Regions from separate parts of the Homo sapiens genome. Here all the other regions are linked to region 2. The links come from fine-mapping of genetic effects on gene expression. A gene starts in region 2. Each other region holds a variant in brackets. All regions are shown on one strand. Distances are from middle to middle.

Region 1 (5,099 bases), 82 kb after region 2:
ATAGGGTGAGGTAGTTTTCCCAGTGCCAGGTATTAAACAGTCCAGAGGTAGCCAGCACCCAAGACAGCCACCAGGGGTTCTTGCCTCCTGGTTTCCAGGCTCTTGTTCAGTCCCCTCCCACACCAAATAGGGCAGACCTTTTCAGATCCTCACCAAGGAGACCCTTGTGTATGACCAATAGGACATTGCAGAAATGACAGCATGTGACTTTGAAGCTAGGTCATAAAAGACATTACAGCTTCTGCCTCTCTTTGAGATCACTCACTCTATGTGAATGCTATGTGAGGACACTCAGGCATCCCTAAGCAGAGGTCCACTTGGTGAGGAACTGAAGCCCCTGCCGACAGCAAGCACAGACTCCCCGCCATAGTGGTGACCTGTCTCAGAACCAGAGCTTCTAGGCCCAGGCAAACCTTCTGATGACTGCAGCCCTAGCCAAAATCCAGACTGCAGCTTCATGACAGATTCTGGGCCAGGGCCACCCAGCTAAGCCCATCCCAAATTCCTGACCCACAGAAACTATGTGAGATAATGTTTATTTTTATTTATTTATTTTTAAATAGAGACAGAGTCTTGCTCTGTCGGCCAGGCTGGTCTCGAACTCCTGACCTCAAGCAGTCCTCCAGCCTTGGCCTCCCAAAATGCTGAGATTACAGGCATGAGCCTCCACACCTGGACTGTTGTTTTAAGCTGCTGAGTTTGTAGTAATTTGTTACCCAGTAACAGAGAACAGACTTTGGTTTCTGGAATGGGGGTCTGCCATAACAGAAACCTCAAATGTAGAAGTAACTTTACAACTGAGAAGTGGGAAGAAGCTGGAAGGACTTTGAGGAGATTGTTAGTAAAAGCTTAAGGAGTGTTAAAAAGTATTGGCTGGGCACAGTGGTTCACACTTGTAATACCATAACTTTTGGAGGCCAAGGTGGGAGGATCACTTGAGTTCAGGAGTTCGAGACCAGCCTGAGCAATATAGTGAGACCTTGTCTCTAAAAAAATTAAAAGAAAAAAGGTGAGAAAGTCTGTTAATAAGAGTCCAGTGACCTTTAAGACAGCTGCAATAAGGGCTTGAAGAACAGTTAGGAAAATGCTATTGGAAACTGATGGAAAGGAGATCCTTGTGTAGCGGCAGAAAGTTTAGCAACACTGTCTCCTGCATTAGTGTGGAGGGTAGGAAATATACCTAAGGAACGGATGGTCTAGCTAAGGAGCTTTCCAGACAGAATGTTGAAGGTGCCACCTGGCTTCTTGCTGCTTATAGTAAAACTGAAGAGGAGAGAGTAAGTTAAAGAAAAAAAACACTTAAATGAAAAAGAGCCTGAAATTGTTGGGTTTGAAAATTCCCAGCCTTTCCAGATAACAAGTGATGTTAAAATTAACAAATGGCTTCCGTGCAAAGATTAAATACAAGGCATTAAATACAGGGAAATGTGGTCTAAAGGTCAAGCTGAGGATGTGATGAAAAAGTCCTTTGTTAAGACCTCAGAAATACCAACAAGATGCCTCAGAGGGGACTTCCAGTCGAATGAAATAATAATCACGCTTCTGAGAAGGTTAAAGGTGTTGTCTTTCAGCGTCTCAGCACAAGCCCAAAGTAGAGAAGGGCTTACCTTGCAGAGATTTTCTTTTTTCTTTTTCTTTTCTTTTTTTTTTTTTTGAGATAGCTCACTGCAACCTCCTCCTCCTGGGTTCAAGTGATTCTCCTGTCTCAGCCTCCTGAGTAGCTGCGATTACAGGTGCCCACCACCACGCCCAGCTAATTTTTGTATTTTTAGTAGAGATGGGGTTTCACCATGTTGGTCAGGCTAGTCTCAAACTCCTGACCTCAGGTGATCCACCCACCTCGGCCTCCCAAAGTGCTGGGATTACAGGCGTGAGCCACTGTGCCTGGCCACTTGCAGAGATTTCTAGGTGTGGCTTTTTTCTAATGTAGTGAACCCTAAGACATGCAAGATACCCAATAAGTTATGAAGAGAATTATATTGGCAGAGACACTGCCAGCTTGGACTGAAAGGGACAGAGCCAGTGCAAAAGGACAAGACGGCTTTGCACACCCAAACTTTTACAGGCAGGAAGCAGGCAGATGAAACTGTGGAGCTGCAAACATCTTTC[A/G]TGGAAGAGGTGGGACGACTCAGGGAGAGCCATGGAGAATCATTCATGAACAGGAGTAGGCATCAAAGAGTTCCTAGCATTTCTCCAACTGGATTACAGAATTTCCACACACCAGTGACTTATATGTATGACTTATATGTGCCTCCTGTCCCCTGCCCCACTTTTTTTTTTTTTTGAGACAGAGTCTTGCTATGTTGCCCAGGCTGGTCTCGAACTCCTGGGCTCAAGTAATCCTCCCACCTTGGCCTCCTGAGTAGCTGGGATGACAGGCACACGCTACCACGCCCGGCTTCCCCTGCTTTTGAGCAAGAATGTCCTTACTGGTTATCCTGTGCCTGCCTCTACCACTGCACACTGGGAGTGTGGAGATGACCTGTCTCTTTAGCTCACAGGTCTGCAGATAGGAAATGCACTTAAGGGCTGGATGCGGTGGCTCACGCCTGTAATCCCAACACTTTGGGAGGCCAAGGCAAGTGGATCACCTGAGGTCAGGAGTTAAAGACGAGCCTGGCCAACATGGTGAAATCCCGTCTCTACTAAAGAAAATTAGCTGGGATGGTGGTGCATGCCTGTAGTCCCAGCTACTTGGGATGCTGAGGCAAGAGAATCACTTGAACCTGGGAAGCAGAGTTTTCAGTGAGGTGAGATGGTGGTGGCTCTGCACTTCAGCTTGGGAGACAGAGCAAGACTCCATTTCAAAAAAAAAAAAAAAAAAGAAATGCACTTAAGGAGCCATAGTTACGGAACTGCATGCTAGAGCCACATCCCCACCTGGACCTGACTGAGATGATGAGATTCTGTACTTTGAGCTGATGCTGTAATGGGATGATGGGGGATCCTGGAAGGTGGTGAGTATATTTGGCATGTGGGAGGGGGGAAATCACTGAGAGCCAGCGGTGGCCTGTGGAGCCAGCCACCAAGGCAGCCTGATGATTCTCGTCCCCTGGTGCTCGTTCCTGTGTGTCATCTCCTTCCTCACTGGATAGGACCAACAGACCTAGGTCATAAAAGACAATGGAGGGGCCCGGCGCTGTGGCTCACGTCTGTAATCCCAGCACTTTGGGAGGCTGAGGCGAGTGGATCACCTGAGGTCGGGAGTTTGAGACCAGCCTGGCCAACATGGTGAAACCCTGTCTCTACTAAAAATACAAAAATTAGCTGGGCGTGATGGCACACCTCGGTAATCCCAGCTACTTGGGTGGTTGAGGCAGGAAAATCACTTGAACCTGGGAGGCGGAGGTTGCAGTGAGCCGATATTACGCCACTGCACTCCAGCCTGGGCGACACAGTGAGACTCCATCTCAAAAATAAAAAAGACAATGAGGCTTCCACCTTGCCCTCTCTGGAATTATTTGCTCTGGAGAAGCCAGTTGCCATGCTGCGAGGATACTCAAGCAACCCTGTGGAGAGATCTACATGGCAGGGATTTGTTGTTTCCTGCCAGCAGCTAGTGCGAACTTGCCAGCCACATGAACAAGCTTTCTCAGAGTGCATCCTCTAGGGGCGGTCATGCCTTTGATGCCCACAGCCCCACTGACATCTTGGCCACAGCCTCAGAAGAGACCCTGTGCCGGAGCCACCCAGCCGAGCCACTGCTGAGATCCTGACCCTCAGAAACAGAAGTAATAAATATTGTTAATTTAAGCTCCTAAATTGGGGGCAGTTTGTTACACAGTGATAGATAACGAATTCATACTCCGTAATTCCCCTCGCACATTTGTGGTGTCTTTTTAAAAATACCAATTCTCATATACACAGTGGTCTGTTTCTGATCGCTCTGTTGTGTTTCTCAGGTATTTTTGTTTCTGTGCCCGAACTGATACCGTTCTCACTGTTGTGGCTTTGCAGCCTATCTTAATATCTGGCAGGGTCGGCCTTTCCTCTTTGCTCTTATTTTTAAAAACTGACCTAAGTTTGGGAGGATGGCTTGAGCCCAGGAGGTCAAGGCTGCTGTAAGCTGTGGTCATGCCACTGCACTCAGCCTGGATGACAGCAAGACCCTGTCTCAAAAAAAAAAAAAAAAAAAAAATGGCCTCAGTAATTGTAGACTTTTATTATTCTCTGTTAATTTTAGAGAGTCTTATGAGTTTCTGCAAAAAACAAATCTGGAATTTGTATTAGAATTGCGCATTGAGTTTTCAAGGTTGGGAGAAGTGAGAGGGATTTTGGCATGAAGATTCTAGAAGACAGAAGAGAAAGAAGCCCATGGGTTTGCTTCAGATTTCTTTCTCCAACGTCATCCCACCCAATGAAGTTCATTCACTCAACAAATATGTTCATTCATTCAACAAATACAGAGCATCAGCTGTATACTAGGTAGTTATTCCTAGGTGGGAAGAGACAGATCATAAACAAATACAAAAAGTTAGAAAAAGTCAGACACTAACTGCTGTGTAGAAAATGAACTGATAGGCCTGGTGCAGTGGCTCACGCCTGTAATCCCAGCACTTTGGGAGGCTGAGGCGGGCTGATCACCTGAGTTCGGGAGTTCATGACCAGCCTGACCAACATGGAGAAACCTCGTCTCTACTAAAAATACAAAATTAGCTGGGTGTGGTGGCACATGCCTGTAATCCCAGCTACTCAGGAGGCTGAGGCAGGAGAATTGCTTTAACCCGGGAGGTGGAGGTTGCAGTGAGCCGAGATGGCGCCATTGCACTCCAGCCTGGGCAACAAGCGAAACTCTGTCTCAAAAAAAGAAAAAGAAAACTGATAACACAAAAGGCAGGATGTAGAGGAGGCTGTTTTAGCCAGGGGGGCTGGGGAGGGCTGGCCCTGAGGAGGCACTGTGTGACCTGCGATCTGAATGGCATGACGGACACGCCACGCTGACAGCTGAGCAAAGAAGCATCCCGGGCAGGGGCACAGCCAGTGGCCGGGGCAGGCACAAGCTGGATGTGTGAAGCAGCAAGGTGTCCGTGGGACCAAGGCCCAGCAAGCAAAGGGAGAGTGGCAGAGAGGCTGGCGGAGCTTGGAGCCTGCAGAGCCCT
Region 2 (5,082 bases):
TCGGCCTCCCAAAGTGCTGGGATTACAAGCGTGAGCCACCGTGCCCGGCCCAGACCAATGTTTAAAGGCACCACGGAGAGAGGTGATTCTACGTGACATGGCTTACGAGGGCCTCACCCAGGAAGAGGCCCACAAATGCCTACCTTAGGGCTTTTTCAAACTGTGGGTCTCAAGCCATTAGTGGGTCATGAAATCAATTTATTGGTTTGCAACCAGCATTAAAAGAAGGGGAAAAAAGCAGTCTAAAAAGTGTCAGGATGAATTGGATACAGTGATCTTAAAAATGTTTCGTTAAACTTTGTTTTGTTTAACATGTGGGGCCCTGGTTATGATGTAAAATATAGTTAACTGCAGACAATATTCAAATAAAAGGACGAAAACAGTGTTCTCTCTCTTTCATGCCTCTGCTCTTCAACCAAGCCTGACCTGTTCTTACCTCAGGGTAGCTGCATTTATATTATTCTGCCGGGACAGCTCTAGCCCACTTCTTCACAAGATTGGTTTTTGTTTTTTTTTTTTTTTTGAGATGGAGTCTGGCTCTGTTGCCCAGGCTGGACTGCAGTAGTGCAATCTCAGCTCACTGCAAGCTCCACCTCCCAGGTTCACGCCATTCTTCTGCCTCAGCCTCCCGAGTAACTGGGACTACAGGTGCCCACCAACATCCCCGGCTAACTTTTTGTATTTTTAGTAGAGACAGGGTTTCACTGTGTTAGCCAGGATGGGGTTTCTTTCTTTTGAGACAGTCTTGCTCTGTCACCCAGGCTGGAGCACAGCGGTGCTATCATGGCTCACTGCAGCCTTGACCTTTCAGGCAAGGGATCCTCCTGGTTCTGCCTCCCAAGTAGCTGGGACCACATGTATACACCACTATACATGGCTAATTTTTTTTTAATTGAGATGGGGTCTCACTATGTTGCCCAGGATGGAAGGCTGGTTTCTTCTCTGGTCCCAACTCAAATGTCACTCTGTGAAAGGCCTTTCTTGAGTACTCCATTCAGAGGTTGCCTGCTGCCTGCTTGTGTGGTCTGCAAGCTAAGAAGGGCGTTTTTTTTTTTTTTTGAGACGGAGTCTCGCCCTGTCACCCAGGCTGGAATGCAGTGGCAGCGATCTCGGCTCACTGCAACCTCTGCCTCCAGGGTTCAAATGATTCTCCTGCCTCAGCCTCCCCAGTAGCTGGGATTACAGGTGCACGCCACCACACCCGACTAATTTTTGTATCTTTAGTAGAGACGAGGTTTCACCATGTTGGTCAGGCTGGTCTTGAACTCCCGACCTTGTGATCCGCCCACCTCGGCCTCCCAAAGTGTTGGGATTACAGGCGTGGGCCACTGCACCTGGCCAAGAATGGCTTTTAAGCTTTTAAACGGTTGGAAAAAAAAAAAACTAAAGAAAAATTTTTCATATGGAAAAATATGAAATTCAAATTTCAGTGCCTATAAAGTTTTATAGAAACATAGCCATACTCATGTATTTGCCTATGGGGTACGGCTGCTACTACAATGGCAGAGTTCAGTAGGTGCTTCAAAGATTGTATGTTGCAAAAAGCTTACTTACCATCTGGCCCTTTGCAGAAACAATTCATCAACCCCTGTTCTACTATAATCATTACCGCATAACTGTTTTCATTACCTTCAAGTCCTTCCTATGACCTAAAATTCTAGTCTATTGTCTTCATTTACTTATTCTTCCCAACTAGAATATAAATTACAAGAGGCCAAGGGCTTTGCCTATCTCTGCCTCTGCTGTATCCCCTGTGCCAAGCACAGTGCCTGAAACACAATAGGTGCTCAGTAAGTGCCTGAATGAAAGAACGGTGGAGGTGGAAGGCAAGCAACTAGGCTTAAGGACCACTGGGGGCTGCATCAGCCACCACTGCCTAAAAGGCGGGGGCCCAGGAAGCTTGCTAAGTACCAGGAACCATGCTCTCCACCAATTTTTGAAGACCTTGCTCACCCGAAGAGTCTTCATCCACGTTCTCGTACTGCAGAAGTCGGTCTAGGAGGAAACTGAGGGGAGGGAAGGAGACACGGACAGTGATTTTCCAGCGCAGCAATGTCCTCCTGGGTACCTGTCCCTCCCAGCTGGCCCATCGGATACTTGAAAGAGCCCATGCACTTGTGGCCCTACTCGGGGATGGGGTCCGAATGTAGATTTCCTAGGAAGCACATCGCCCTCCGCCCCTGCAACGTGCCTCACCTCTTGTCCCGGGACACCTTCAGTAATTTCCTTTGCGCTTTCCTCAGCTCCTCCTGGAAGCACTCGTGCTCCTGTATCACGGGCAAGGGGTGCGCTGGGCCAACGGTCCTCCGTGAAGGGCCCCGGAACCAGCGGCCGCTCGCCCCACCCACTTTACACCTGGGTAAACTGAGATCTTGTCCGCGCCAGGCCTCATCCCCCACAGCCTTCCCGCGGCAGCACTCACGTAGATGAGGAACTTGAGCTTCCGCTTCAGATTCCGGTATTTTTTTTTGTAGTCCACTTCGCCGTCCGCCGGCCCGTTCATGACCGGCCCGGGAGTGGCGCCCAGAGTCTGCCCTCCCGCTACCCCAAGCAGTGGCTGCCGTGCCGCTCCCGCCTCCACTTCCGGAGACGCTGCAAGGCTGTGCCGTCAGGACTACAACTCCCGGCGTACCCCGCGCTCAGGGGCGTCACCGCACGGGCCGACCTCCCGGGGGACACTGGGACAGGAGCGCGGCAGCCACTGCGCTGGGGATGGCGTAGCAGCGACGCGGTGACGCCACAAAAATGGCGGACGCTGGAAAGCGCCGTTCCTGACTCTAATGTACTTAGACACTTGAAGCCACAAAAGGATTTATCCCCGAGGTTCCTCATCTGCTCGCGAGGATGCCTTTTCTCTTCTGCCTTGCGAAATAACAGCAGCCTAGCTGTTGCCCGTGACCAGTGAGAAAGGCAGCGTCGCGGGCTGATTAGGTTTCACCCAAAGGGTGCCGGCGCCGAATTGGTTTCTAACGAGAACTTTTAAAATGATCCGTTCCAAAAAAGGGTAGGAGCCGCGAGACCCTCCAACTGCCCAGAGAAAACAAGTCTCGTCTGGCAAAGTTCTCGGCCCACGCGGTCCGCGGCCAAGGGCCAACGGTCCCTCGCCCCACGTTGCCGCAGCACTGCGCGTGCGCGAGCCGCTGTCAAACGCGCTGACGGAGGCCGAGAAGAAAAAAAGGCGGGAGCCGTCAATCCCGGGTTGAGCAAAATGGCGCGGGAGAAGGAGATGCAGGAGTTCACCCGTAGCTTCTTCCGAGGCCGCCCGGACCTCAGGTGCCCAGGGGGTTGGAGATGGGGTTGGAAAGGGCGCGGGTGGGTCGGGACTCCGTCCTGACACCATGTCCCTGCAGCACGCTTACGCATTCCATCGTGCGGCGGAGGTACTTAGCTCACTCGGGCCGCAGCCACCTGGAGCCCGAGGAGAAGCAGGCACTGAAGCGGCTGGTGGAGGAGGAGCTGCTGAAGATGCAGGTGTGCCGGGCCGGAGCCTGGGCCGCGGGAGGCGGAGGCGGGGCTTGCTGCTGAGGAGGAGGGGCCTGACGGGGCGCGGTGAGCGCAGCCTTGGTGCATAGTTTGCCCTCTTGGCGCACACACAGGTGGATGAAGCCGCTTCCAGGGAAGACAAACTGGACCTTACCAAGAAGGGCAAGAGGCCTCCCACCCCTTGTAGCGACCCGGAGAGAAAAAGGTTCCGCTTCAATTCAGAGTCGGGTTAGTGCTTCCTCCCTGCTGTGGGGGCCTTCTGCATCGTTGGTTCACTCAAGAAGCATTCACTGCGCATCTCTTATGTCCCCAGGCGTTAGATGAGGGAGCAAGGCTAGTGAGTCAGGAACCGGGAACAGCAAGTACAGATAGCTGTTTCCTGCTGCCCCTCCAACTGTCAGGGCAGGGCTCGAGGCAACCTATCCGAAGTGAAGGGAGAAGGGACAGGAGGAGCCTGTCTCAACCCTCTCTCCTCTCCATATTCCAGAGTCCGGCTCTGAAGCCTCCAGCCCAGACTACTTTGGACCCCCAGCAAAGAATGGGGTGGCAGCAGAAGTCAGCCCAGCCAAAGAGGAGAATCCAAGGCGAGCCTCAAAGGCAGTTGAGGAGAGCAGTGATGAGGAACGGCAGAGGGACCTGCCCGCACAGAGGGGAGAGGAGAGCAGTGAGGAGGAGGAAAAGGGGTACAAGGGGAAGACTAGGAAGAAACCTGTGGTAAAGAAGCAGGCACCAGGCAAGGCCTCAGTCAGTAGGAAGCAGGCCAGGGAAGAAAGTGAGGAGAGCGAGGCAGAACCCGTTCAGAGGACAGCAAAGAAGGTGGAGGGAAATAAAGGAACTAAAAGCCTGAAGGAAAGTGAACAGGAGAGTGAAGAGGAGATCCTAGCCCAGAAGAAAGAGCAGAGAGAGGAGGAAGTGGAGGAGGAAGAGAAAGAAGAGGATGAGGAAAAGGGGGATTGGAAACCCAGAACCAGGAGCAATGGCCGGAGAAAGTCAGCTAGGGAGGAGAGGAGCTGTAAGCAGAAAAGCCAGGCAAAGAGGCTCTTGGGAGACTCAGACAGCGAGGAAGAGCAGAAAGAGGCAGCCAGCAGTGGGGATGACAGTGGGAGAGATAGAGAACCCCCAGTGCAGAGGAAGAGTGAGGACAGGACCCAGCTTAAGGGTGGGAAGAGGTTGAGTGGAAGCAGCGAGGACGAGGAAGACAGTGGGAAGGGGGAACCCACAGCTAAAGGCTCTAGAAAGATGGCCAGACTGGGCAGCACCAGTGGTGAGGAAAGTGACTTGGAGAGGGAGGTAAGTGACAGCGAGGCAGGGGGAGGCCCCCAGGGGGAGAGGAAGAACCGCTCTTCCAAGAAGAGCTCCAGGAAAGGCAGGACACGAAGCTCCTCTTCCTCCTCAGATGGAAGTCCAGAGGCCAAAGGAGGGAAGGTGAGGGTGAGGAGGGGTGGGAGGCCACTATTAGGGAAGAGGGAGACCCTGCCTCAGGCCCAGCAGGCTTGGCCTTCAGCTGCTCTTTCCTTGCTAGGCTGGCTCAGGTCGCCGTGGAGAGGACCACCCGGCTGTGATGAGGCTGAAGCGCTACATTCGGGCCTGTGGTGCCCA
Region 3 (5,099 bases), 85 kb before region 2:
CTGGGTCAGACCAGAGGAGGTCACACATGGGCCCATCATGAGGCACCTCTTGCTTTCGGTCGATTGTCCGAATCTGATCCAGGGTCTGGATGGAGGGGGAGAGGCCCCCGTGCACGCAGAAGATCTACAGGGGAGAGCAGGGAAAGAGGACGGGGCTGAGGCCTGAAGCCCCCCTCCTCTCCCTGTCCCATGGAGCCCTGGGCTGGCTTACCTTGCCATCGATGATGGCTGACAGGCTGAGGTAGTCAAAGATCTCAGTGCAGTAGCGCCACACAGTCACCGAGCCGTACTTGCGCAGGCACTCATCGTAGAAGCCATAGACCTGCGTGATCTGGCGACTCTCATGGTTGCCCCGGATCAGTGTGATGCGATCAGGATAGCGAACCTGGGGGTGGCCACCAAGCCAGGGCTGGCGCCTAGACGGTCTCTCCACACATCCCTCTCTGACCTCCTCGTGCCCGCCAGCCTGCCATCCTCACAACCACTGCCCAGCACACTCCTGGCACCTCTTGCCTGAATCGTGTGGCATCAGCCACCTCCCAGGCCCACACGACCCCTCCAGAGAATGTAAAGCTGACCCATTCCCTCAACTATGAACCTAATGGCTCTTCTTTCACCTACCAGACACAGACCGGGTCCCTAGCAAGGCACCCAGGCCCTTTGTCATCTGGCCCCACACTGCCTCTCCCACCAGTGGCATCAATGACCTGCCACATTCGCAACAGTGAGCCTCTGCCCCTCCCAGAATGCTGCCCCGCTGGCCTCAACCCCCATCAAGTCTCTGACCACCCCCAAAAGCAGAATCGGTCCATCACCAGTGACACAGCTCCAAGGTGGGGCTGGTCACGATAGGAGATGAGGGCGGAACGGACTAAGACAGGCCCGGCCCGAGGTCGCCCAGGTTGGGGGTGCAGAAGCCGGGGACTGCCACCTTAAGTGCCAGCAGCAGGAGGAACGTTTCGACGCTATAGAAGCCACGGTCCACAAAGTCCCCCATGAAGAGGTAGTTGGTCTCAGGGACGTCGCCACCTACCTGTGGGGAAGTAGAAAGTTTTGCCCTGTCGTAAACAGTCCCCTACCCCCTACCTGTTTCTGTCCAGCGGAGGCCCTTCTTCCACAACCACCCATCTAACTTGGGGCCCCTTGCCCCCACTCCACGCCCCAAATTAAGGCTCCCACCCTCAATTACAGGGGTCTTCCAGTCATCCCCCCGTTACATTTCACAGTGTTGGCCACACTCTTACTCTGAACAGCTCTTTGAGGTCATAGAATTGTCCATGGATGTCGCCGCACACCTGGGGAACAGGAAGAGTGGGGTTGGAACTCAAGCAGTGGGAGTTGCCAGGGACTACCCTCCAAACACCCGCTGCTTTAGTGAGCTTTATCACTCTTGGCTGCACTTCTACTTCCTAGGACCAAAATTCTCCTCTCCCACCCCAAGTCAGTCTGGTCTGGAACCATACCCACTGTCCTATGCTGAGTACCAACTATTCTGTAGGCAAGAGCTAGAACTAAGTCCTTCCAGGTAGATGTCCCGGCCCCTTCCTCTCTCTACTCCCCACAAAGTACCCAGAATCAAGTTACTAACACAGAGCCCTGGAGATATGTGAGCAGAATCACTCGCCAAATAGGAGTCCTTCTGCCCTGGCCAAGAATCTCCACTAACAAATCCAAAGTCCCTTCCCATAACCCCTTTCTTTTCTTTCCTTTCTTTTTTTTTTTTTTAGACGGAGTCTCACTCTGTCGCCTAGCCTGGAGTGCGGTGGCGCGATCTCGGCTCACTGCAAGCTCCGCCTCCTGGGTTCACGTCATTCTCCTGCCTCAGCCTCCCGAGTAGCTGGGACTACAGGTGTCCACCACCACACCTGGCTAATTTTTTTGTATTTTTAGTAGAGATGGGGTTTCACCATGTTAGCCAGGATGGTCTCGATCTCCTGACCTCATGATCCACCTGCCTCGGCCTCCCAAAGTGCTGGGATTACAGGCGTGAGCCGCCGCGCCCGGCCTGTTTTTTTTGTTTTTTTTTGTTTTTTTTTGAGACGGAGTCTCCCTCTGTCACCCAGGCTGGAGTGCAGTGGCCTGATCTCAGCTCACTGCAATCTCCAACTCTGGGGTTCAAGCGATTCTCCTGCCTCAGCCTCCCAAGTAGCTGGGATTACAGGCACGTGCCACCACGCGTGGCTAATTTTTGTATTTTTAGTAGAAACGGTTTCACCATGTTGGCCAGGCTGGTCTCGAACTCCTAACCTCAAGTGATGTGCCCACCTTGCCCTCCCAAAATGCTGGGATCACAGGTGTGAGCCAACGTGCACAGCAACCCCCACTTCTTTTAGCAGTGCTCC[G/A]TTGAAGGTGAGGGAAAGGACAGATAAAAGAGCTTAGGGTTGGGCTTATAGAGCCCCCAAGATGAAGAGGAAACTTCATGTGCCTGAAAGACCAGGCCTGGCTCTGCAGGGACAGCAGGTACTCACTGTGACTGGCGAGTCCACCCTCTGCACGTTGCTCTCCTCTACCAAGATCTCTCTGGAGACAGGAGAAGACCAGGGTCACCACAGCCAGGCCAGCCCAGCCCAATTCCTGACCTTTTTTGGGGGGAGGGGAGGATATGAGGCAGTCCTGGAAGCTCCAGGGGGCAGGAGTGAAGCGTACAGTCTCCCCAAAACAGGCTGACCACGGCCCTTCAGCATGCAACACCCTTCCGTGGCCCCCTGCTGCCAAAAGGACAAAGTCCAACCTCTTATCCCAGCGTTCCAGGCCTTCTGAGCAGGCTGGGACTTTTCCAGCCCTGACTCCCCCTGCCGCTCCCTCTTCCGCATCCAGGACTCACTCCTGGGAGGCGGGTCTCCCCATCCTCTCCACAGCAGAGCTTAAGTCACCCTTGGCCAATCACAGAGCCCTTCTCCCAGGCTATCCAGACACAAGGGTAGGTGCCCAGGGCAGGCCCACAGTGGATGCGCCTTCAAAGTGATGCGCTCTTGGCCAGGTGCGGTGGCTCATGCCTGTAATCCCAGCACTTTGGGATGCCAGGGTGGGCAGATCACGAGGTCAGGAGTTTGAGACCAGCCTGACTAACATGGTGAAACCCTGTCTCTACTAAATATACAAAAATTAGCCAGGCGTGGTGGCGCGTGCCTGTAATCCCAGCTACTTGGGAGGCTGAGGCAGGAGAATCGCTTGAACCTGGGAGGTGGGGGCTGCAGTGAGCTAAGATCGCGCCACTGCACTCCAGCCTGGGCGACAGAGCAAGACTTCATCTCAAAAAAAAAAAAAAAAAAGTGAGGTGCTCTTGCCATGTGTTCAGTATTTCTTTATGACTATGAGGACTTAAATATTTTTTATTTCTCCTTGCAGTGCAGTCTACTTCTACTTGAGTGAGCAGGAGATGAAATCACTTTGCCAGGTAAGACACCCAATTTTTTTTTTTTTTTTTTTTTTTTGAGACAGAGTCTGGCTCCATTGCCCAGTCTGGAGTGCAGTGGCGCCATCTTTGCTCACTGCAAACCTCTGCTTCCTGGGTCAAGTGATTCTCCTGCCTCAACCTCCCGAGTAGCTGGGATTAGAAGCATGTACCACCACGCCCAGCTAATTTTTGTATTTTTAGTAGAGTCGAGATTTCACTATGTTGCCCAGGCTGGTCTCGAACTCCTGACCTCAAGTGATCTACCCACCTTTGCCTCCCAAAGTGCTGGGATTACAGATGTGAGCCACTGCACCCAGCCTATAGATACCCAATTTAAGCAACACTGTATTTCCAAATTTTGCCTGGTAATAGCAGCAGTGAACATTCGAGCTCATACTGTGTGCCACAAATGTTATTAAGAGCTTGGCAGGCAGGTACTATGATGATTCCCGGTACACAGATGAAGAAATTGAAGCAGGGAAGGAGGCTGGCTTGGTGCCAGTGACACAGGTGGGATATGAACCAGGGAAGCCTGGCTCTGGGGTCTGACTCTTTATCAAGATATTCTGATGTGGGAGGCCCAACTCGCCTGGCCCCCCTCTTTCTGCCAATCTCTTCCCTTAGAATGAGTTTCCTGAGCTCAGTGGACAGGAGGATTCACTTATGCCCCTTGCTCTGTATGGCAGAGGCAGCACGAAGGAGGTCTGCCCTGGCTTTCTGGGAACAGAAGGCAGCACTGGCGGTGGTCCAAGAGGCCACATCAGTACCCGGACTCTCCCACCTGCACTGCTTCTTGTGCTGAACATCCTTCCCCATCAACTGCTCATAGTGACCTTTCCAACAGACTGGGGAGGTTCTCTTCAGCCTCACGTAACAGTAAAGAAACCGAAGCTAGGCCGGGCGCGGTGGCTCATGCCTGTAATCCCAGCACTTTGGGAAGCCAAGGCAGGCAGATCATGAGGTCAAGAGATTGAGACCATCCTGGCCAACATGGTGAAACCCCGTCTCTAGTAAATATACAAAAATTAGCTGGGCATGGTGGCGCGTGCCTGTAATCCCAGCTACTTGGGAGGCTGAGGTAGGAGAATCACTTGAACCTAGGAGGTGGAGGTTGCAGTGAGCCAAGATCAGGCCACTGGCACTCCAGCCTGGGCAACAACAGCAAAACTCTGTCTCAAAAAAAAAAAAAAAGAAAAAAAGAAACCAAAGCTTACAGAAAAGCGGGAGGGTCAAGGTCACCAAGCTGGAGAGTGGCTAAATTGGAACCCAGAAGCCCAATTTCCTGAGAATTTATGCCAGCCCCTTCCACAGACCCTGAGTGAAAACCTGAAGCCCAGGGAGGTCACATGCAGGGCCCGTGCTCTCTGCAAAGCCCCCCTCAGTGCCAGCGCAACCCCAGTGTGGCCTGGGAATCAGGCCCAGATTCCAGCCCCAGTTCTGCCACTTGCAGCACTTCCCCAGCCCTATCAGGACCTGCCTGCAGTAACGGCTACCAGCGCAGCAGGCCCTGTGCCCGGATACCCGGACTCTCAACTGCATGTCATTATCACTTCAAAAAATCAGAAAGTGACTTGACGAGGGTCATATTGCTTCTAGGTGACAAGGCAAAGATTCATACTGAAGACCACCTGATTCAAAAGCTCAGCTCTCCTACTGTGCTAATATTTCTAGTAGCAGCAATTTCAGCTCAGACACTGCGGAC
Region 4 (5,099 bases), 100 kb before region 2:
GGACTACTCCAAAATACTTGGAGTCAGTGTAAATAGTTCCTTCCTGATTTTGCAGAGATTTTAAGGCCTGATTTAATGCAAAGAGTTCACATGTTTGAGTGAACCAGTTATTGGGCCGTCTCCCTGACTCTACCTCCATGAGGGTTTCCCTGTCAACTACAGAGCACCCGTTATGCCTCCTTCCTTCAATTACCCGAGAGGAGCCGTCTATAAAGAGGTAATGCCCAGTTTGGAACAGGGTCTTGCTTAGATGCAGTCTGACTCTAGTCTGATAACTGATCAGATCTAAACATTTATGCTCAGGTTCCTCCCGGTTCGGATTTCCTGTTAGGAAAACATCGGAGTTGAGCGAACTACCAGTGGTCAATGTTAAATCATCCCTCTCTAATAAGATAGCCTCAATTTTTTTGGGGGGTGGGTGGAGGATGGAGTCTCGTTCTGTTGCCCAGGCTGAAGTGCAGTGGCTGATCTCGGCTCAGTGCAACCTCCGCCTCCGGGGTTCAAGCAATTCTCCTGCGTCAGCCTCCCAAGTAGCTGGGATTACAGGCGTGCGCCACCATGCCTGGCTAATTTTTTGTATTTTTAGTAGAGAGGGGGTTTCACCATGCTGGGCACTCTGGTCTCAAACTCCTGACCTTGTGATCTGCCCACCTCAGCCTCCCAAAGTGCTGGAATTACAGGCGTGAGCCACCACACCCACCCGATAGCCTCACATTTTAAAATCCTTGAGTCAGTGAGCTATCTTCCTGCCTTCTGATTAAGAATGGTTCTAACGTGATGAAGGGTACATACAATGAGGCTTCCCCCAAAGGTTATTTTCCTGCTTCGTTCCATTAGCAAAGCAGTTGCTGCTACAGACTGGGCACATTCGGGCCATCGGTGGGTTACTGGGTCAAGAACTTTTGACAGGAAGGCTATGGGCTGCCAGTGGCCTCTGTGTCTTTGGGTGAGTACCCCTAAAGCCAACCCCTTGTTTACACTGATGAAAAGGTGGAATGGCTAAGGAGGGCAAAGCTATAACGGGGGCAGTTACAAGTAGGTGTTTTAACTCTTCTACTTGTTGGACTTCTGATAGGGTCCAAAGAAGGGGGTCTGGTCCTTCTTGGGTGAGTTTTTTATGTAGAGATTTTGTTTTTCAGGCATAAGAGTCAATCCATAGACGACAGTATCCAACTAATCCCAAGAATTTTCTAAGTTCCTGCTTTGTTTCAGGCAAAGGTAGAGATGTGACACCTTCAATTCGTTCAGGTACTATTTTCCGTTTGCCTTTACTGATTAGGTGTCCTAGATATTTTACCTCAGGTTCTACAAACTGAATTTTACTCCTTGAGACCCGTAACCCTTGTTCCCTTAGGAAATTCAGGAAGTTAATTGAAACTGTGGTTATGTGGTCCTTGCTATTTCCTGAAATGAACAGGTCATCTGCCTATTCGAGTAGGCATATGGATGAAGGAAGGGAAAAGTTTTCTAGGACTTGTTCTAAAATTTGACCGAATAGATTTGGGGAGTCTGTAAACCCCTGGGGTAGGACTGTCCACTGGTACTGCTGTTTTCGACCTAAGTGAGGGTCCTCCCACTCAAAAGCAAACATGTCCCGGCTGTCTTCCGCTAAAGGGCAAGCCCAAAAGCCATCTTTCTTTTTTTATTTTTTATTTTATTTATTTTTTGAGACAGAGCCTGGCTCTGTTGCCAGGCTGGAGTGCAGTGGCACGATCTCGGCTAACTGCAACCTCAGCCTCCTGGGTTCAAGCAACTCTCCTGCCTCAGCCTCCTGAGTAGCTGGGATTATAGGCACATGCTGCCATGCCTGGCGTGTGTGTGTGTGTGTGTGTGTGTGTGTGTGTGTGTGTGTGTATTTTAGTAGAGACGGGGTTTCACCGTGTTGCCCAGGCTGGTTGCAAACTCCTGAGTTCGGGCAGTCTGCCCGCCTCAGCCTCCCAAAGTGCTAGGATTACAGGTGTGAGCCACCGTGCCCAGCTGGCATCTTTCAAATCTATCATTGTGAACCACTGGTGATCATATGGGATTTTGCTGATAATAGTGTAAGGGTTGGGAACAACAGGGTGGGTAGTTTGAGCTGTTTGATTAACAGCCCAGAGGTCTTCTACTAGCCGGTATGACCCATCTGACTTTCTTACAGGCAATATTGGAGTGTTATAAGGGGACATACAGGGTTCAAGGGGTCCGTCATGGACGAGGCCCTCAATTATAGGTTTTAGAGCCATTCTAGCTTCTAAGGGAATAGGGTATCGTTTTCTCCTGACCACTTCCCTGGGAATTTTTTTT[TA/A]ATAAATAAATCAATAAATCAATAAATAAATCTGACGGTGGAACCCAAATCAGAGTTAATCACTTTCTTTCTTTTTTTTTTTTTTTTTTGAGACGGAGTCTTGCTCTGTCTCTCAGGCTGGAGTGCAATGGCGTGATCTCAGCTCACTGCAAGCTCCACCTGCCAGGTTCACACCATTTTCCTGCCTAAGCCTCCTGAGCAGCTGGCACTACAGGCGCCCGCCACCACGCCCGGCTAATTTTTTGTATTTTTTTAGTAGAAACAGGATTTCACCGTGTTAGCCAGGATGGTCTCGATCTCCTGACCTCATGATCCACCCACCTCGGCCTCCCAAAGTGCTGGGATTACAGGCTTGAGCCACCATGCCCGGCCTTTGAGCCTCTCTTAATTAAAAGTTCCTCTATGGAGCAGTCTTGCCAATTTTCTATCTTTTGTAATTTCTTTCTAATGTCCGGCCGACTGTTGGTGATAAAATAGAGCTTTAACATCCCTTGTCCAAGTGGGTCCTCTATGTCTAAGCCTGAATATTTTCTTATTTGCTCCTTAAGTGTCTTTAAAAATTCCATGGGCCCTTCATCTTTTTCTTGGTGTACATTAAATGCTCGAGAAATATTTTGGGTTTGAGGCACCAATTCCTGAATCCCTTTAATTATCATATCCCTGAGGTCTTTCATGTTTTCTCAGTGGGCTGCATTGTTCCTATTCCACTGAGGGTCCTGGGCTGGGAATTTCTGCTCTGCTGCAGGGATGTTTTGACCAAGAGGGTGTTCACATTCCCAGACTATCATAGCAGCCCTGCGGATCATGGTTCTTTCCTCCCCTGAGAAGAGAATACCTAAGATGGACATTAATTCAGCCCAAGTATACAATTGCGGCCCTAAAAATTGTTCAATTTGATCTGTGACTCCAAAAGGATCATCTGATAATGGTTTGAGTTCCTTTTTCAGATTTCTAACCTCTGAACTAGTTAAGGGGGCATTTACGAAACCAATACCCCCTCCTCCCAGTGGTACTTAAGGGAAAAGGGGTTGGGGCAGACCCCTTTGAGGAAGAGGGAAAAGGAAAGTTCTGAATATCCCTCCGGCATTGTTCCATCTCGTGCTGGAGTTTTCCTGAGGAAAGGACATGTTCGGGTGGCTGCTCAATGGGGATGTGGGGCCACAAGGCCCACAGGGCAGGGTTATGTGGGGGAGGGACTGAGTGATTAGCCTGAGGTGGGGTAGGCGGGGGAAGATGGTCTAGGGGATCCTATACATTGGCATCTTTAGATGTAGAATCTGACTTAACTGGGTTGTCCTAGGAGGGTACTGAGTTTGGTTTCTCTTTTACGTCATCCTTTAAGGGAAAGGGAAGGACATGTTCCTGTCTCCAACACAGAGCATAATCTATTTCCTCTTGAGAGACTGGACTTTTTTTATTAACATACTGGATTAAGAGTTGGCATATCCAATCCTCGTCTGATCCAAACTTTGGCCAAAAGACTGAGGGTCTGAGGATAGGTTCTTTGGTCCAAATAAAACAGCAATATTTTATCATTCACTGTCTTTCCTTGTGTTACATGGTTCTTTCATTATACCTCCAGTACTCTAACATAAGGCCCAGAGGACTGTCAGGGGGAATTTTATTGTCTGCTTGGCCTTTTGTACTCCCTGTCTTACTTGGGGTATTTCCCATTCTGGAGGTTGGTGCCCATTTCCTAGGGGCTTAACCTCTCCCTTTTCCCATTGGAGGTTTCTTGCACTCATATGAATAATCGCTTCGTACTTTTTGGCCGCTTCCCTCGTGGGAATTTCAGGCCCCTCTTAGCATTAGCGGGTCGGTATAATCCCCGACTGGAAAACCGCCCTAAGCCTTATGAGGTGACCATGGAACCAAGTCTGGACTCCACACTCGATTCGTGTCCACTGACATGTCTCAGCCATGCACTTTCAACCTCCAAGTGACCCCAACCACCAAGGAAATACTTTGTCGCCCCAGTAGCAACTTTTCTTACCTTGGTCTGTGCACAGAGTTACCCACTTGCCTGGGAATTTTAAGGCTCCTTCCTGCCCACGTTGCTGAAAGTCCGGATTTATTCCTCACTTTGGGTGGACCCGATCCTCCGCTCCTTGGGCCACTGCAACAAGGCAGTGGGACGTGTCTCACGAGGAAAAGTAATCGCTACCCCTCCCAAAGGAGAATGGGATCCCAGAAGACCCTCAAATTTGTTGAAAACAAGTGCTCAGTGTAGTCAAGAAAAACCAGCACTGAGACAGAAGACTTCCCAGCAAGGCATCTTTACTTCTGCAGAAGGGTGCTGCTTGCGCTGGTTGCAATCCCAAGAGCACCCGCCAACAAAGGAGGGAAGTGGTTTTTAACCCTAACGCAGTTCCTGTTTCTGTGTCCTTTCCCCATTGGCTGGGGGGTTGGACCGCACAATCTGAGCTGATCCCGATTGGCTAAGGTTTAAACTTTCCCAAATAGGGTAGACGTGCGACAAAGAAGAAAAAGCGGGAGTAGAATCTGTTTACAGCTTATGACCAGGAAATTGAGTCTTTGAAGAGGAACTTAGCTGTCCCAACAGAGGCATCCGAGAGGCCTGGAGGAGGTGATGCTGGACAGTAGGAATTGCCTGGTCCGACGCCCTGGCTGCCAGGGGCGCGCATCTTTGGGTCTTCCCTGCTAGAAGGTGAACTGAGTGTGTCCCTGGCGCTCTGGCAAAAGCCATGGAATGGGCCCACAGTGAGAATTCCAGCTTCGCCTCTTACTAGCTGGATAACCTAGGGAGCCGCGAGACCTCCCTGGGCCTCAGCCCCCGGTACAGTGGAGCCAA
Region 5 (5,099 bases), 24 kb after region 2:
CCAGAGGCTGACCACTCGCTCAGCTGGGCTTCCCCATCCTGAGAGGGCCTACCCAAGTCCAGCTTCTCAGAAAGGCGCACCCTTTCTTCTCAGAACTAGACACAGGGACCCGCGCCCCTGCACCCCGTGTCTCACCTGGTAGGGGTCACTATGGTGCCCCAGCGCCTCCGCTTCCGCCTGGGGTCCTCCAGCGGCTCTGCCAAGCAGGGAGAGGGGCAAGGAGACCTTTCCCCTTGCCACCTCTTCCTCGGCTTTCGCCCTTCCTGAGGGGCGGGCCCGGGAAGCCTCCCCTGGAGGGGAGGGGGTGACAACCTAATCTGACCTCGCGGTCCAGTCCTCCCCCTCGTCGAGGGCGACAGCTGCCGAATTCCGGATTTCTGATTGTGGGGTCTGAACCCCGAATATCTGAACGGGATGGAGACTGAATCCGATATTTGAACGCCCGGGGAATGAACCCCGGATACTGGTGCACGCAGGGGCCTGAACCTGATATTTGAAATTCTATGAAACAGAGACCCAGGTTTAGAGAGGTTGGGACCCGAGTCCCGGATATCTGGACTATGAGGACTGTTACCCGGGTATCTGAGAAAGGAGGAGGGGCAAAGCCTGGAAATTTGGGACCCAGGGGCCTGAGCTGTAGGTCTTCGGCCACCGACTGGGGGCCCACCCCGAGGACGTCCGGCCGCACGGCCCCTCTCACGCCGGGGTCCGAGGGTGACAGCCCCCACTCCCGCCCCGGCCTCCTCCCTCTCCCTTCTCTCTTCCGAGAATAGCTGAACGATTGTAGCTAAGGTGCTGCTGACGGTCCCCGCGCCCTCTCTGCCTCTCCTCTTCTCCGTCTCAGCCTCTCTCCGCACCACAGCCCCGGTCTCGTCCCGGTCTCCCTCTCCCTCTTCCTCCCAATTCCAAGATGGAGACCGGGCGGGAGCGCGCAGGCGCGGTAGGGACGCCGGGCTAAAGGGGGCGGGGGCGCAGAGGACTCAGCCCCGCCCTCTCTCCTCACTGCCGCGGCCTGGGAGACCGGCAGCCGCCAAGCCCGAGTGCGCGCCCGCCCCGCCACGCGGACCCCAGGCCGGAGGAGGCGGGGAGAAGAGCTAGACTTGCAAGGGGAGGAGCCCGGCACTCTGTCCCACGACTGGCGGTGGACAGAGCTGCAGCGCATGCGCTCGCCCCGCCTTCGCTCTGAGCCCGAGCTTGTTGCTAGGGGAAGCTTTGAGGGGGCGCGGGTGGACGGACAGCAGCGGCGATCTGCGACTGCGCGCAGGGTGGAAGTTGGGAGGGGCAAAGGAAGCTGCTGCTGGGCGCGGAAAAGGCGGGAAAATAGACTGCTCCGAGGTTAGCAACCATCTAACCTGGAAAAGGGCCTCCAAGTGCGAGGAATCTTTGCGCGTCGACGCTGGGAAAACTCAATCGGTCAAATCTCTTACGGAAATTGAGGCGCTGCAGGTTGCAAGACTTGCCAAGGTCACAGTGCATTTATGTCACAGCATTTCCATGACCTGACACCCCACCCGCCCAACTAACTGTAATTATCCATTTTATTTCGTAGAAGAAAACAAGACAGGTGTTTACCAAAGCCAAGTCAACCATGGGGAGAGCTCAAGTAACCTATGCCCTATGCCAACCTGTGTCCAAACTAGAGAGTCAACAGGAAAGAGTCCCCCAAAACTTCTAAGCCTGCCTACCCTAAAATCCCCACCTCAATCCAACCCCCAATAAACACCATACACGCCACTGGGCAAAAAAGCTTTTTATTTTCCCCCACATTCCAGCTCTTCACTTTTTCTAAAACCTTTTCCAACTCAGAGCCAAGGCCCAAGAAGTTGATTCACACCTGGGGAGAAAGAAAATAAAACAACAAAACAGGTCGAAGAGCTGCTAGAGGAAGCTCTGAGATGTGTGCAGAAATTGAGGAAGGAGCAGAGGGAGTGACAGCTAGAGACCAATACGGGCATTTAATCCCAACTAAGGTAGCCTCAGGACCCCAGGGTCTGTCAGGGGCCAGGAAGCCCTCCTTTCCCAGTCCAAGGTTGAGAGGGTCCTGTCATTTCCTGTCCCAAGTAGGTGGTTGGGGCATTTAGGCCCAGCCATCAGCAAAATAAGCACAGTTGATCTTGAGCTTCCACTTCCTCTGGCCTGATCAGTTCCCTGGGCCTCAACTATTTCCACT[T/C]TTCCCATAGTAACTTCCTAGGGCACTGCAGCCAGCTGAAGCTGAGACCAGTTCAAGAGCTGGATGCATAACACATGGCTCTCAAATTTCATGCACCCCCCTCTGACAAGTGAAGATTTTTTGCAGAAATATTTTTTCCTTTAGTGAGCTGATGTGTGAACTGGTTAACCAACATGACCCCCACCCACTGCTACGTTTGTGAAGCTGATTCCCTCCAAAGATCTTGTTAACGGAATCAGCTTTTTCTAAAGGTAACGATGACTAAATGGAAGACAGAAGGTGCATGTCAAGTTCTTGGGCACATACTATGTCCCCAGTAAATGAGTATCATCAGTTAGACTCTTCTGAGCGGTTCAAGTTGAATTTTACAAAATTTCCATCATAAAACTGGGTATTGGAATTTCAGGACAAAAGCAAGACAAACATGGTTCATATTCAGGACAAATCATCAAATGTGAACCCTCTTAACTCACCATTGTTACCCAAATGCTTGGATGTGAACTAGTTATGAGTCTTAAAATCACAATGTTGCTTGAAAGAAGTCAGCCACAAAAGAATGTGTATGATTCTGTCTACATAGTTTCAAAAATAAGTAAAACCAAACTATATTATTTAGGAATACATACATGGCAATACATTATAAAGCAGGACAGTAATTTCTAGGGAGAGAGAGGGCATTGTCAGGAAGGAAGGGACCATGGGGGGTTTCTGGACAGCTGGTAATATTCTACTCAGTGGTATTTATAAGTATCCACTTTATAATAATTTGCCAAGCTGTCCTTTTATACTATTGGACTTTTCTACATAAGTGTTAACTATTTTATAATAAAAAAGTTAAAGTAATTAGAAAAATATTGAATGCTGACGGTGTCAAATTGTTCCCAGTCCCTAAGGGAGAGCTGTGGTTGAAGAGGTTCTCGGGGACTCAGAAGCAGCAGTCTTTGAGGAAAAGTCCAAGGATCTGCTCTACCCCGGTTACAACCCCCACCCCCACCCCATTCCCTGCTCCCGCAGGACTGGAGCAAAGAACCTCACCTGAGAAACAAGTCGGGAACTAGGCCAGTGCCCTCAGAGCCGGGTTCTAGACCAGTGGGACTCCCGGCGCGGGTGGAAGCACATAGCAGTGACACAGCAGAGAAGGCCACAGAAGAGAAGCAGGAAGGAGCCCAAGACCAGCAGCCTGGAGCCACACAGAGCCAGCTCCTCCTAGGGAGGGGTACAGGGAGAGGAGGAGGAGGACATGTTAATCCAGTCCAAGGGCTATAGAAGGAGCCTCCATGAGGGAGAGGGCTCTCCACATCTAGGGAGCAACTGAAGGGAAAATGTTATTTTCATATAAGCTGACATTTGTCTTTTTTTTTTTTTTTTGAGATGGAGTCTTGCTCTGTCGCCCAGGCTAGAGTGCAGTGGCGCGATCTCAGCTCACTGCAAGCTCCGCCTCCTGGGTTCACGCCATTCTCCTGCCTCAGCCTCCCAAGTAGCTGGGACTACAGGTGCCCGCCACCACGCCTGGCTCATTTTTTGTATTTTTAGTAGAGACGGGGTTTCACCGTGTTAGCCAGGATGGTCTTGATCTCCTGACCTCATGATCCGCCCACCTCGGCCTCCCAAAGTGCTGGGATTACAGGCGTGAAACACCGCGCCTGGCCCTTTTTTTTTTTTTTCTTTTTGAGGCAGGGTCTCACTCTGTAACTCAGGCTGGAGTGCAGTAGTGCAATCTCGGCTCACTGCAACCTCCGCCTCCTGGGCTCCAGCGATCTTCCCACCTCAGCCTCCTGAGTAGCTGGGACCACAGGTGTGTGCCACCACGCCCAGCTAATTTTTTGTGTGTTTTTTTGTAGAGATGGGGTTTCACCATGTTGCCCAGGCTCGAACATTTGTCTTGATGGTTTAAAAACTACTTTCTTGCCCAATTATCAACCTGAAACCCCATCATAACTCCATGAGATAGGAAACTTCATTATGATCCACAGTTTAAAGATGTATAAGTGGCTGGGTGCGGTGGCTCACACCTGTAATCCCAGCACTTTGAGAGGCCGAGGTGGGTGGATCACGAGGTCAGGAGATTGAGACCATCCTGGCTAACACAGTGAAACCCCATCTCTACTAAAAATACAAAAACTTAGCCGGGCATGGTGGCGGGCGCCTGTAGTCCCAGCTACTTGGGAGGCTGAGGCAGGAGAATGGCGTGAACCTGGGAGGCGGAGCTTGCAGTAAGCTGAGATTGCGCCACTGCACTCCCGCCTGGGCGATAGAGCAAGACTCCATCTCAAAAAAAAAAAAAAAAAAAGTGCAAGCAGTGCTAGATCTGGAAACCAGATCTCTGATTCCAAGTCCCAGGTTGTGCTCCTCATGGGGTCTTTTCTTTTTTTCTTTATTTGAGACGGAGTCTCACTCTGTTGCCCAGGCTGGAGTGCAGTGGCATGATCTCAGCTCACTACAACCTCTGCCTCCCAGGTTCCAGAGATTCTCCTGCCTCAGCCTCCTGAGTAGCTGGGATCACAGACGCCCGCCACAACATCCAGCTAATTTTTAAATTTTTAGTAGAGATGGGGTTTCACCATGTTGGCCAGGCTGGTCCTGACCTCAAGTGATCCACCGGCCTTGGCCTCCCAAAGTGCTGGGATTACAGGCGTGAGCCACCGTGCCTCATGGGGTATTTTCAAATGTGAGAGTGGAGTGTGCAGCAGCCTCCTGACTGATGGCCCTCCTCCACTCAGCCATTCTCCACCCAGCACCAGGGAAGCACATCTCTCTCCTCCTTAAAACTCCTCAGTGGCCCCCACGGCCTTCAGCATCAGGTCATAGCCCTCTATCCTGCATTCACAGAGCCTCTCCATCAAATCCCTGTGGTCTCTCTTGCCTTTTCTCCTTCCTAAGCCTCTCAACATGGAGTGCTCCCAAAGGCTGAACACTTTCTTTTTTTTTC

The links.
Region 1: its variant is fine-mapped to the expression of INO80E in whole blood (TOPMed, PIP 0.98).
Region 3: its variant is fine-mapped to the expression of INO80E in tibial nerve (GTEx, PIP 0.97).
Region 4: its variant is fine-mapped to the expression of INO80E in whole blood (TOPMed, PIP above 0.99).
Region 5: its variant is fine-mapped to the expression of INO80E in stomach (GTEx, PIP above 0.99). The same link has a PIP of 0.9 or more in esophagus muscle and gastroesophageal junction.

The regions. Positions count from the first base shown.
Region 1 is chr16:29,912,161-29,917,259 of GRCh38, reverse strand. All of the region lies in intron 2 of KCTD13 (potassium channel tetramerization domain containing 13), which reads left to right. It also overlaps a transcript of ASPHD1 not described here. Among named protein-coding and RNA genes, the nearest start is that of KCTD13-DT, 12 kb to the left of the region's middle. The variant A/G (reference allele first, on the strand shown) is at 2,110.
Region 2 is chr16:29,993,732-29,998,813 of GRCh38, reverse strand. It overlaps INO80E (INO80 complex subunit E), which reads right to left and starts at 2,573. Exons shown (of 7, transcript NM_173618.3): 1 at 2,423-2,573; 2 at 2,197-2,267; 3 at 1,954-2,006. The coding sequence starts at 2,503. HIRIP3 (HIRA interacting protein 3) reads left to right here and starts at 3,197. Exons shown (of 7, transcript NM_003609.5): 1 at 3,197-3,273; 2 at 3,351-3,471; 3 at 3,597-3,711; 4 at 3,971-4,908; 5 at 5,006-5,082. The coding sequence starts at 3,209. RefSeq lists enhancers at 2,490-2,619, 2,680-2,849, 4,706-5,082.
Region 3 is chr16:30,078,680-30,083,778 of GRCh38, reverse strand. It overlaps PPP4C (protein phosphatase 4 catalytic subunit), which reads right to left. Exons shown (of 9, transcript NM_002720.3): 3 at 2,469-2,520; 4 at 1,245-1,295; 5 at 932-1,033; 6 at 212-385; 7 at 1-124. Among named protein-coding and RNA genes, the nearest start is that of PPP4C, 5.2 kb to the right of the region's middle. The variant G/A (reference allele first, on the strand shown) is at 2,343.
Region 4 is chr16:30,096,601-30,101,699 of GRCh38, reverse strand. YPEL3-DT (YPEL3 divergent transcript) reads right to left here. Exons shown (of 2, transcript NR_135192.1): 1 at 4,281-5,099. Among named protein-coding and RNA genes, the nearest start is that of YPEL3-DT, 2.7 kb to the right of the region's middle. RefSeq lists a silencer at 5,041-5,090 and an enhancer at 5,061-5,099. The variant TA/A (reference allele first, on the strand shown) is at 2,287.
Region 5 is chr16:29,969,685-29,974,783 of GRCh38, reverse strand. TMEM219 (transmembrane protein 219) reads right to left here. Exons shown (of 6, transcript NM_001083613.2): 5 at 3,206-3,376; 6 at 1,736-1,834. The coding sequence ends at 3,239. It overlaps TAOK2 (TAO kinase 2), which reads right to left and starts at 916. Exons shown (of 16, transcript NM_016151.4): 1 at 136-916. It overlaps LOC124903762, which reads right to left and starts at 1,162. Exons shown (of 2, transcript XM_047435036.1): 1 at 1,004-1,162; 2 at 149-787. The coding sequence starts at 1,162. The coding sequence ends at 149. RefSeq lists an enhancer at 1-433 and a silencer at 857-1,226. The variant T/C (reference allele first, on the strand shown) is at 2,171.